Homo sapiens: one gene and its partners. The protein of the gene in region 3 purifies or fractionates together with the protein of the main gene of each other region. This does not show direct contact. Each region holds a gene or a part of one and is shown on either strand. Other genes may lie near its edges.

The links.
Region 1: the proteins of RIOX1 (region 3) and ZSCAN5A purify together in Homo sapiens (co-immunoprecipitation; one large-scale study listed by IntAct). This does not show direct contact.
Region 2: the proteins of RIOX1 (region 3) and MYO9B purify together in Homo sapiens (affinity purification with mass spectrometry; one large-scale study listed by BioGRID and IntAct). This does not show direct contact.

The regions. Positions count from the first base shown.
Region 1 is NC_000019.10:56,224,197-56,227,843, forward strand, and holds part of ZSCAN5A (zinc finger and SCAN domain-containing protein 5A), read right to left. Parts: intron 978-3,647; 5' UTR 851-977; coding exon 467-850; intron 1-466.
Region 2 is NC_000019.10:17,204,717-17,208,363, forward strand, and holds part of MYO9B (unconventional myosin-IXb), read left to right. Parts: intron 1-546; coding exon 547-620; intron 621-1,243; coding exon 1,244-1,436; intron 1,437-1,531; coding exon 1,532-1,660; intron 1,661-1,962; coding exon 1,963-2,068; intron 2,069-2,396; coding exon 2,397-2,528; intron 2,529-3,647. UniProt on the Homo sapiens protein: Myosins are actin-based motor molecules with ATPase activity. Unconventional myosins serve in intracellular movements. Binds actin with high affinity both in the absence and presence of ATP and its mechanochemical activity is inhibited by calcium ions.
Region 3 is NC_000014.9:73,489,720-73,493,815, reverse strand, and holds RIOX1 (ribosomal oxygenase 1), read right to left. Parts: upstream 2,884-4,096; 5' UTR 2,799-2,883; coding exon 873-2,798; 3' UTR 751-872; coding exon of another isoform or gene 692-750; 3' UTR 422-691; downstream 1-421. Other genes in the region: HEATR4 (HEAT repeat-containing protein 4), read left to right, coding at 692-750. UniProt on the Homo sapiens protein: Oxygenase that can act as both a histone lysine demethylase and a ribosomal histidine hydroxylase. Specifically demethylates 'Lys-4' (H3K4me) and 'Lys-36' (H3K36me) of histone H3, thereby playing a central role in histone code.

The DNA of each region.
Region 1 (3,647 bases), on a different chromosome or scaffold from region 3:
TCCCTGCATCTGATACCAACCACTTTCCCTGCTTCAGGATGGGACTCCTGGGCCCCCCTTCAGTTCACTCTAATGCCTCCTTCCCTACATTCCATCAGGCCTAATATTTCACCAATGTCTTTCTTTCATGTTGGCCTCACACAGTGTGTGGGTCCCTGTACCCCCTCTGCCTGTCCATCTCCTACACCAGGAACTTGCCGTCTCAGCACAGCTGATATTGGAATCTGGATGATTATTTGTCATGATGGGTTGTCCTGAGCGTTAGAGAACGCTTAGCAGCGTCTCCTGTCCTCCCTGACAACAAAAACTGTCCCCAGACACTGCCATGTGTCCCCGACGGGCAAACTCTCCTCTACTTGGAAGCCCTGACCTAGAGCAGCCCCTCGGGTCCTCTCGAGTCCAGCTGCACCGTGCAGCCCCCATCCCAGCTCCCCTTCCCTGCACCAATCACGAGGGTCCCACTCACCCATTTCTTGGGTCTTCTGTTATTTCGTAGCAGGTCCTCCAGGTCTTTGCAGCTCTGCACACCGTTCATCATGACTAAGACCTGGAGCTCCTGGGGCATGGAGATCATGAACTGCTCCATCACCAGCATGTCCAGGATCTGCTCTTTGGTGTGGAGGTCGGGCCTCAGCCACAGATGGCACAGCTCAGTGAGTTTCCTCAGAGCCTGGATGGGGTCCGACTCCTTCGGGCAGCTGAACATCCTGAAGTTCACGTGAGAAATCTCAGGGTCCACGTCGTGATTTCCAAGTTGAGTTTCTGAGGATGCCATAGACCGTGGCAGCTCCAACCCAGGTCTGTTGCAGGATTCTCCTAGACTCCATGAGGATGTGCAATTTGCAGCCATATCTAGTGGAGAATTTTTTAATCAGTCTCTGAGAAAGCTCTTCCAGTAGCTGGTATCTAATTGATACCTATCTACACAGGCTTCCTCTGGTTTTCCTCAGTAATAGATTCACTGTTCATTCAGAAGTCTGGGGGGGAAAAGTATGAGCCTCATTAGTTTAAGTTACTACTCCATCCATCCCTCCCTTCGAAATCCCTCATCCTGGATGCCACTTCTTCAGCAGCATCGAATTCAGCACAGTGGAAATCTTCCAGTGTCTATACCTGACTACATACTCTGGTTTAAAATCTTAATGACCCCTGGATTCTGATCTCTAGGAAATCACTGTGCAGAGGCTGAATCAGTTTTCCTGTCAATTGGAACAACATTGTTCTTGACTATAAATTAAATAAGATAGTTAGGTGAAGCTCTGAAAATGTGATGCAACAATAAAGTAAGCCCTTTATGTTTCCCCATCAGGACAAGATCCAAGGCAAAGCCCTTAGTCATAATTATGCAAAAGGATAGAGAAAAAGAGTTAGAATGTAATATTTTCCCCAACACATATTCTTGTTAACTCCAGAACATTTACTTGCTCCAGGGAAGGGACAGCATTAAAGGATCCTATGAGGATTAAGCACCTACACAGATATTTTGTTATTTTGGTAAAATGTACATTCATAAATTTCATCATTTTTTACTCTCTTCAAGTTCACGATTTTATGGGACTAAGACATGCACCATGTTGTACAACCATTACCACTGTTTACTTCCAGAATTATCTCATCAACCCAAAAGCAACCCCATCCCCATCAGTGATCACCCCCTGCCCACCCACCCCAGCCCCTAGCAATCACTAATCTACCTTCTGTCTCTAAGGGTTTCTGTATTCCTAATCTCATCTCAGAAAATGGATTTAAAGTCTAGTGCTCTTTGATATTTTAAAGAAGTGGGTTGATACAATAATAAGATTTTTAAAAATTAATTCCTAAACCTAGCTTCATTAGGCAGGAGCCACTGAGTGATACTCTCCAGGCATCAATTATCGTCCAAGTTCAACAGCTATGAGAACACAGCCCTGCTTTCCTAGACACAGGTGGGGGAAGCAACCTGAAGGTCTGCAGAGGGGAGAAAAAACTGGCAGAAGGGTCTTGGGAAAAGTCACTGGTAGCCTGGAGGGCGAGTGCCCCACACTTCCTGGAAGGACTTTGAGCAAGTGCAGAACAGAGAGACAGCCAGGGAGACAATCGGCAGAGGCGGGAGACAACCCAGAGGAGGAGACAATATTTACACACCACACATCTCACGGGGCTCCTGTGCAAAACATAAGCAACTCAAACTCCTCCAGAGCGAGAAAACACATAACCCACTAGAAGGGCTTAAGGCGCCTGTGTGGACATCTCAGATGAAGACATGTGAATGGCCAGCAGGTCTAGGAAAAGGTGCTCATTATCACTCATCATCAGGGACATGCAAATCCAAACCACAAGGCACCCCTCACGCCTGCTAGAGTGGCTGTTCCCAAAAAGACACATGGAACGAGTGTTGGTGAGGATTTGGGGGAAAGGGGTCCTCTGCGCCCTGTGCTGGGATGTAAATTAGAGCAGCCGATATGGGAGACAGTATAGAAGCTCCTCAGAAAATTGAAAGTCCAACAACTGCATGATCCGGCAATCCCGCTCCGGGGCAGGTACACAGAGGAAAGGAAATCAGGACGTGGACTCCAAAACAGTGAAACTCTGGAGGGATAGAGGGAGGGAGGGTTGAAAAACTACCTATTGGGTACTATCCTCATATCCTGGGTGATGGGTAGAGTCATACCTCACACCTCAGCATCACTCAATATACTCATGCAACAAATCTGCACAGGTACCCACTGAATCTAAAACACAAGTTCAAATTACAAAAAAAAATTTAAAAAGAAGTAAATAACATAAATAATAATTAAAAACCCAGTGGAACTCATAGTAGTAGTGAGTAGAATAGTTACCAGGGCTGGGGTAGGGGTTGGGAAGATATAGGTCAAAGAGTACAAATTTCAATTGAAGAAATCAATTCAAAAGAGCAATTGTCCAACATGGTGACTTCAGTTCATAACAATGTATTGTATACTTGGAAACTGCTTAAAAAAAATTAGATTTCAAGTATTCTCAAAACCAAAAATGGTTAGTACATGAGGTAGGGCATATGAATATTAGCTCAATTTAGCCATTTAACAATGTTTGTAATACTACAAAGCATATTATGCTATATGCCATAAATATATACAATTTTTAGTTTTCAATTAGAAGCAAATTAATTTTTATTGAAAAAGCACACAGATATGATAGAGAAAAGGGAGCCTGAAATTCTGGAATTAAAAGTGGTTTTGCCAGAGGGCGCCTGCTGCTGCTCAGGAGGCAGAGGCGGAGGTGGGAGGATCACTTGAGCCCAAGTGTTTGATAACAGCCTGGGCAACATAGTGAGATCCTGTCTCTAAAAAAGAAAGTGGTTTCATGTTCCTAGAAATCACTTTGTATTTGATCTTAGTTCATTCCCCGTTAAAGTAAGAAACAAGACACAGGAAAAAATAAAGGCAGACACAGGAGTTAGTATTCAATTCTGGGAGTATATACCACACGGGTCACCCAGGTAGGGACACTTAGCTCAGATTCTCATTGGCCTAGTAGGTTGATGCTCATTCATCAATGATTTGATTTCACCCTGTGCAAAGGGAAAATCCAGCAATGCTTTTTAAAAAGGGTGTGTGGCAGGCAAAGTGGCTCAGGCCTGTAATTCTAACAGGTTGGAAGACCGACATGGGAACATGCTAGAGCCC
Region 2 (3,647 bases), on a different chromosome or scaffold from region 3:
CACGCCTGTAGTGCCAGCTACTTGGGAGGATCACCTGGGCCTGGGAGGTCAAGGCTCCAGTGAGCTATGATAGTGCCACTGCACTCTAGCCTGGGTGACAGAGTGAGACCCTGTCTCAAAAAGAAAAAGAGAAACCAAAAAGAAGGCAATCCAGGCCAGGTGCAGTGGCTTACGCCTCTAATCCCAACACTTTGGGAGGCCGAGGTGGGCAGATCACCTGAGGTCGGTAGTTCGAGACCAGCCTGACCAGCATGGAGAAACCCTGTCGCTACTAAAAATACAAAATTAGCCAGGCGTGGTGGCGCACACCTGTAATCCCAGCTACTCGGGAGGCCGAGGCAGGAGAATCACTTGAACCCGGGAGGCGGAGGTTGCAGTGAGCCGAGATCACGCCATTGCGCTCTAGCCTGAGAACAAGAGTGAGACTCCATCTCAAAAAAAAAAAAAAAAGAAGGCAATTGGCGGCCCCCGGCCAGCTGGGTGGGTGGCTGCAGGAATCTGGGGTCCCCAGCACCCTCTGTGACTCCCACCCTGTGGACCTCCTAGTGTGCAAGATGACCTGCCACAAGAAGTGCGTGCACAAGATTCAGAGCCACTGCTCCTACACCTACGGGAGGAAGGTGAGTGTACGAGGCCTGGAACTTTCTACAATGACACTCCACTCACGGCCAGGTGCACCAGGAGGTGGTGCTTGATGTGAGGGCCAAGCGAAGCATTGAGCAGCCAGTAGGGGGCGGCTGTGGCCTCTGGTTCTGCAGAACACACCATTGTCCCCGGTTCTGTACAAACTCCTTGAGGCCCTCAGGCAGGGCCCAGGCCTGTGTGTGTGTCTCAGCTCCCCCAGCCCTGCTCATCCTTGCTCCTGAGAGAGTCCTGAGCCATGCAGAGGGAGGCCCCCCAACTCTGTGCATAAGGTTGGGGTCCTGGGTGCTGGGGGTGCAGCAAGAGTCAGGGTCTACTTCTGTGAGGTGGCTGTGGGGGCTAGGTTATAGCTCTCTCCCCACGAAGGACCACCCATGCCTTGGGTGGCCTACAAAGGAAGCCCCTGCCCAGTGGCTGCCATGCTGGCCTTGACTTCTGCAGCCCCACACCCCCAACAACCACGCAGAAGGAGACAGGGAGGGACAGAACAGCAGAGGAAGCCCTGAGGGCCTTGTGCGGGACCAGGAGGCAGAGGCCCCCAGAGACAGCTGGAGAGGAAGACAGCCAGGCCCAGACCTGACCCCCAACCCCGGCACTGCAGGGCGAGCCAGGCGTTGAGCCTGGCCACTTCGGCGTGTGCGTAGACAGCCTGACCAGCGACAAGGCCTCGGTGCCCATCGTGCTGGAGAAGCTCCTGGAACACGTGGAGATGCACGGCCTGTACACCGAGGGCCTCTACCGCAAGTCGGGTGCTGCCAACCGCACTCGGGAGCTCCGGCAGGCGCTGCAGACAGGTGGGCGCTGTGGGCAGGTGGGTGCAGTGCCAGGCCCCAGGCACAGCCGTCCTGCCAGTGCGCCGCTCACCAGACCCACCCCACCCACCCCACAGACCCCGCAGCAGTCAAGCTGGAGAACTTCCCCATCCACGCCATCACAGGGGTGCTGAAGCAGTGGCTGCGGGAGCTGCCCGAGCCCCTCATGACCTTCGCACAGTACGGCGACTTCCTCCGAGCCGTCGGTGAGCCCCATGGCGGTGCGGGTGGCAGCAGGTGGCCACAGCCAGGATACAGCGTTCGCTGTGACCAGCCCAGGAGGCAGGACCACCCAGTTCACAAACTGAGAAACTGAGGCCCAAAGCAGTCGGCCCAGCCAAACCGGGTCCCCAGTTTGGGGTGGGGCCAGGACACCTCTGTAGCCATCCATTCTTGCCTGGGCACCACAGGGTGGATGGCACCTGTGCATCTCAGGTCGTGTTGGTGGGGACAACAGGCACCTTGGGGACCCTTGGGAGCTGACGTCCTCAAACCCCACTGCCTGCAGAGCTGCCGGAGAAGCAGGAGCAGCTGGCTGCCATCTATGCCGTCCTGGAGCACCTTCCAGAAGCCAACCACAACTCCCTGGAGAGACTCATCTTCCACCTTGTCAAGCAAGTGCCTCCCCACCTGCCCTCTGTGGGGTTAGGGTCGCATTGGGAACCCGCGAGGCAGCATTTCCCAGGAGGACCCGAGCTGGCGTTCTGTGGTGGTTTCGAACCAGGATGCAGACCACTGTTGGGGGTTCTGGGAGGGGGCCAGGCTGCTGGGCCGCCCGGGTCCCTTGAGGTACCTCTCTGTGCTGCGGAAGCATCTCCCAGTGCTGGGCTGTGGCACTGCTTTCCCAACAGCCACCCCAGGGCTCAGAAGTTCAGTCTCGGGGCTCCCTGGTACCTCCCTCCCTCGGCCCTAGCCATCCTCTAACTGCCAGTGGCTGTGCAGGGTGGCCCTGCTCGAGGATGTCAACCGCATGTCACCTGGGGCGCTGGCCATTATCTTCGCACCCTGCCTCCTGCGCTGCCCTGACAACTCGGACCCGCTGACCAGCATGAAGGACGTCCTCAAGATCACCACGTGAGTGCCCACCCTGCCCCGGAGGCATGCTCAGGGCAGCCCCACCCAGGACCCCACGACAGCTCCATCCATCCCTGTGTAAATAAATGTGTAAGAAAAGTCCAGAGCCGAGTGCAGCGGTTCACACCTGTAATCCTAGCTACTTTGGGAGGCCAAGGCAAGAGGATCACTTGAGGCCAGGAGTTCGAGACCAGCCTGGGCAACATAGCAAGACCCTACAAAAAATTTGAAATTGGAAATTTGTATTTAAATATAAAAATTTAAATTTCCAAATTTAAATTTTTAAATTCAAATTTTTATTTAAATATAAAAATTTAAATTTTTGTCTCTACAAAAAATTTAAAAATTAGGCCAGGCGTGGTGGCTCACACCTGTAATCCCAGCACTTTGGGAGGGCGAGGTGGGTGGATCACTTGAAGCCAGGAGTTTGAGACCAGCCTGACCAACATGGTGAGACCCCATCTCTATTAAAAATACAAAAATTAGGCTGGACGAGGTGGCTCACGCCTGTAATCCAGCACTTTGGGAGACCGAGACGGGCAGATGACCTGCGGTCGGGAGTTCGAGACGAGCCTGACCAACATGGAGAAATCCTGTCTCTACTAAAAATGCAAAATTAGCCGGGCGTGGTGGCGCATGCCTGTAATCCCAGCTACTTGGGAGGCTGAGGCAGGAGAATCACTTGAATCCAGGAGGCGGAGGTTGCAGTGAGCTGAGATCATGCCATTGCACTCCAGCCTGGGCAACAAAAGCGAAACTCTATCTCAAAAAAAAAAAACAAAATACAAAAATTAGCCAGGCCTGGTGGCATGTGCCTATAATGCCAGCTACTGGGAGGTGGAGGCTACATTGAGCTGAGATCGCACCACTGCACTCCAGCTGGGCAACAGAGTGAGACTCCGTCTCAAAAAGAAAATTTAAAAAAATAAAAAATATATATATAAACTAGCCAGGTGTGGTGGCAGGCGCCTGTAATCCCAGCTACTCGGGAGGCTGAGGCAGGATAATTGCTTGAACCCAGGAGGTGGAGGTTGCAGTGAGCTGAGATCACGCCACTGCACTCCAGCCTGGGCGACAGAGCGAGACTCCGTCTCAAAAAAAAAAAAAAAATCCAGATGG
Region 3 (4,096 bases):
CCCAGGCTGGAATGCAGTGGCATGATCTCAGCTCACTGCAACCTCCACCTCCCAGGTTCAAGTGATCCTCCTGCCTCAGCCCCCCTAGTAGCTGGGATTACAGGCACGCACCACTATGCCTGGCTAATTTTTGTATTCTCACTAGAGATGGGGTTTTGCCATGTTGGCCAGGCTGGTCTCAAACTGCTGACCTCAGGTGATCCACCCGCCTCGGCCTCCTAAAGTGCTAGGATTACAGGCATGAGTACCGCACCCAGCCTGAGAGTCTCTTCCTTAAGAGGTTGATTAACATGCTCCTTTTACATGCTACAACCACCCCAGGTTGCTTTTCACTTCAGCCATTATAGATTTTCCCTATCTTCCTCCCGCTCCTGCATTTCTTCGAACCATCCCACATAATAATCTAGCCTTAGGAAAGGGAAACATTCTTTGGCACTTTAATAACTTTTCTAAGGTTCATACAAATTTAACAATAACAAACAGGATACTGACCCCGACCCGCCCATGAAAAAGAACTCAGATGAAAGATCCAAATTCCAAAAAAAATCTAATATCTGTCTCAAGCAGAACGACATGGTCAGTGTTACCCAGTACACTGAAGCCTGAAGGTGATGAAGTTGGTGCTCTGAAATGATCACGGATCAAGGGTTTTTTTTCCACCTCCAACTTCTCCTTTTCCTTTTGTACCTAGATGAGATGGTTCTTCCTAGAAGACCTTCCGAGGTTTGTGACACTGAAGCAGTGATAAAGGTAAATGTGAGCACACTGATGCTTATCAAGGTAAGAACGTGAGTTTAAGGAAAAAAAAAAAAAAAAGGTAGCAGTGGCAGCGGAGAATCACTACTGCCTTGTTTCCAGCAATCAACAAGAAACTAATTTAGGGCTAGAGGCATCTTAGTGAGCAGCAGCCCCTTATCATACAACGTGGTTGCCAAGGACAGCTGGTCCTCCACACTGTCACAGGGCAGGTCCCCCACTCTCACAAACTCTGGATAAGAACCAAGCAACAGTTCCATGGCATCAGCTTGCTGGGGGTATATTTCCAAGCACTTGGGTTCTTCCAGATGATACACACGGGAGTTTTCCACTGTGTAATAGAGAAACAAATGGCCCCCCTCACCCACCAGCCGAGCTATCCCATCCTGAAGCATATGGACTTCTGTTTCTGTTGTCAACTGGGCCCCCACGTTTACAGGTTCTCCAGCCTCCCAGCGAATTGGAAGCCCGTAAACACTTAGTGCCCTCTCCCTATCAGTCAAAACAGGGGGCAGAGAATCGTGAATGAAGTCTTTGGCTCGCTGGTCGGCCACAGCATCAACAGGAGCAAAGTGTCCCAGGCGGGCAACCAAGACCCGCACCTTCTCCATGAAAGCGGTTCTTCGCGGATCCTTAGAATCTGAATGCTGGGCCCCCATGTAATCCATGAAGTCTCGGGGCAGACCCCTCCGAAACTCCACATTTTCTTCCATTGCAGCCTGCACTGCCAGAGGCAGTATGGCCTCTAAGAAGTCACCCCAGGTATTGCGCTGGTACGTGGACAAGGTGAGGTGCAGAGAGTGGACTCCATCCTGGCATTCAGCTTGGTGAATGAAGCCCCGAGGAAAATACAGCAAATCTCCAGGTTCCAGCACGGTCTGCAGCACCGGCTCACCGAGGTCGTCCTGACTGAAGTTGGGGCTGGATGTCAGAGCCAGTTCCTCGGTTGGGACTCGGGGTCGGTATACACGCCAGAGTTTCCTACCTTCCAGCTGCAGCACGAAGGCCTCGATGTCGTCGTAGTGGGGGGCAAAGCCCTGCGAGTTAGGGGGCGTGAGGTAAACGTTGGAGCCTGCCATGCTTCCAAACTGCTCTTGAAGCACAGCCAAAAACTGCCACACAGTAGTAGAGAAAGCCTGCGGACAGAGGAGACGCAGGGAGCAGCCGGCCTGGTACAGGGACCACGCGGCGGCGGGCAGCGCGCGGCCGGGTGGGTTCAGGGTCTCGCGTCGTCCGTTGATGTAGCGAGCGGCGTCCAAATGCTGGCCGAACTGCACCTCCTCGTTGCGCAGCATCGAATCCAGGTCAGCGGTAGAGAAAAGTCCCTGGTAGTAGGTGTGGTCCTGCCGCCGCACCAGCACCGCCTCGCGCTCCCATAGGCGCCGGTAAAAGTGATCTGGCGGCATGGGCGCGATGAGCCACTCAAAGAGGCGGGCCGCTCGCCGCCGGCTGCTGGGGATGCGGTTCAGCTCGGCCAAGACGCGCCGCAGCGGGGAGTCCCAGGCCGGCTCCCCACCCGTGTTATCCACCTGCGGCCCCGACGCCGTCGCAGGGGCCCCGGACGACTGGACGGCCGCTAAGTGTTGCGCGGTGCACAGCAGGGCCGAGGTCTCCACCACCCGGACCGGCGCGGCGGGCACCTCCACCAGGCGCGCGGGCGGCGCGGAAGCGGGCACCAGGCGCGCCGACGGGGTCTGCAGGGAGCGCGCGGCGGGCGAGGCCTCCAGCAGCTCTGCGGGCCCCAGGTGGCCGTATGGCTCTCGCCGGGCTGCGTCCGGGACGGCCGCCACCGCCGCCCCACCGGGTAGCGCGTCCCCCAGGTCGTCGGCCGTCGACTCCACCCTCGATTCCTCCGAGTTCTCGCTAGGCAGCGTCTGCGTCCTCAGCGCTGCCATGCGGGATACAACACTTCGCAGCTGCTTTCGTATCTTCCTGGACCTCAAGGGCAGGGCCAGGACCGACCCGCTGTGTGGCTGGGGCTTGCGCCGGCGCTTCGGCCGCCCGCGCCTCAACGGCCCTGCACTGGCCTGGAGCCCATCCATGGCCAGACCACACCAGTCTTCCCCGCCCGGCCGGCCGGGGGCGAAGCTAAAGCGGTTCCTGAATGCAGCGGCTGCGGTGCACTCTGGGAAGGGGGCGCGGCCTCCAGCCACCTCGGGGTTGGCCACGCCCATCATTCTTCTATTCGGCCCCTCCCGCTCTCTTTCATTAAATGTTTGGCTTCAAGCTGTAGCGGCAGCGGCAAGAACCCTTGCCAAACAAACAAGGAATCTACACTCAGAGAGCAATTTAAAAATCAAGTTGCGGCCAAGCGCGGTGGTTCACGACTGTAATCCTAGCACTTTCGGAGGCCGAGGTGTGTGGATCACCTGAGGTCAGGAGTTCGAGACCAGCCTGACCAGTATGGTGAAACCCCGTCTGTACTAAAACTACAAAAATTGGCCGGGCGCGGTGGCTCCGCCTGTAATCCCAGCACTTTGGGAGGCCGAGGCGGGCGGATCACGAGGTCAGGAGATCGAGACCATCCTGGCTAACACGGTGAAACCCCGTCTCTACTAAAAAAGAAAAATACAAAAAACTAGCCGGACGTGGTGCTGGGCGCCTGTAGTCCCGGCTACTCGGGAGGCTGAGGCAGGAGGATGGCGTGAACCCGGGAGGCAGAGCTTGCAGTGAGCCGAGATGGCGCCACTGCACTCCAGCCTGGGCGACAGAGCGAGACTCCGCCTCAAAAAAATAAAAATAAATAATAATTTAAAAATTACAAAAATTAGCCAGGTGTGGTGACTTGCACCTGTAGTCCCAGCTACTCGGGAGGCTGAGACAGGAGAATTGCTTGAACTCGGGAGGTGGAGGTTGCAGTGAGCCGAGATCGTACCATTGCACTCCAGCCTGGGCGACAGAGTGAGACTCTTGTCTCAAAAAACAAGAAGAAGCACAAAATCAAGTTACTAGAGACTCCCCAGGAGAAATGGCTACTTGACTGTTTTTTCCTTCTAGTCTCTGCACATTGCAGTGTTCCTTGGATGTCCTCATTTCTAAACAGGATGTTCCACCGGCAGGTTCCCACCAAAAAGTGCAGAATTCTTCTTTTCAAGGAATGCCCCCAGGCAGTTTGAGTTCCGCAGAAACTTCTGCTCTGCAGATGAATTCACTGATTGAAGCCTTATCTAGGAGTTCCTCCACCTAACTTCTCTCCCTCTTTTCTCCAATACAAATTCTCAAATTCATTGTCCTCTCTCTGAAAAATAAGTTAAGAATTTCTCTACTTGCATTCTTGATATCTGCCCTTCCTGCCCCTCTGGGATTTTGTTTCTTTAGCTACAACTTCTTTGGCTCTTAA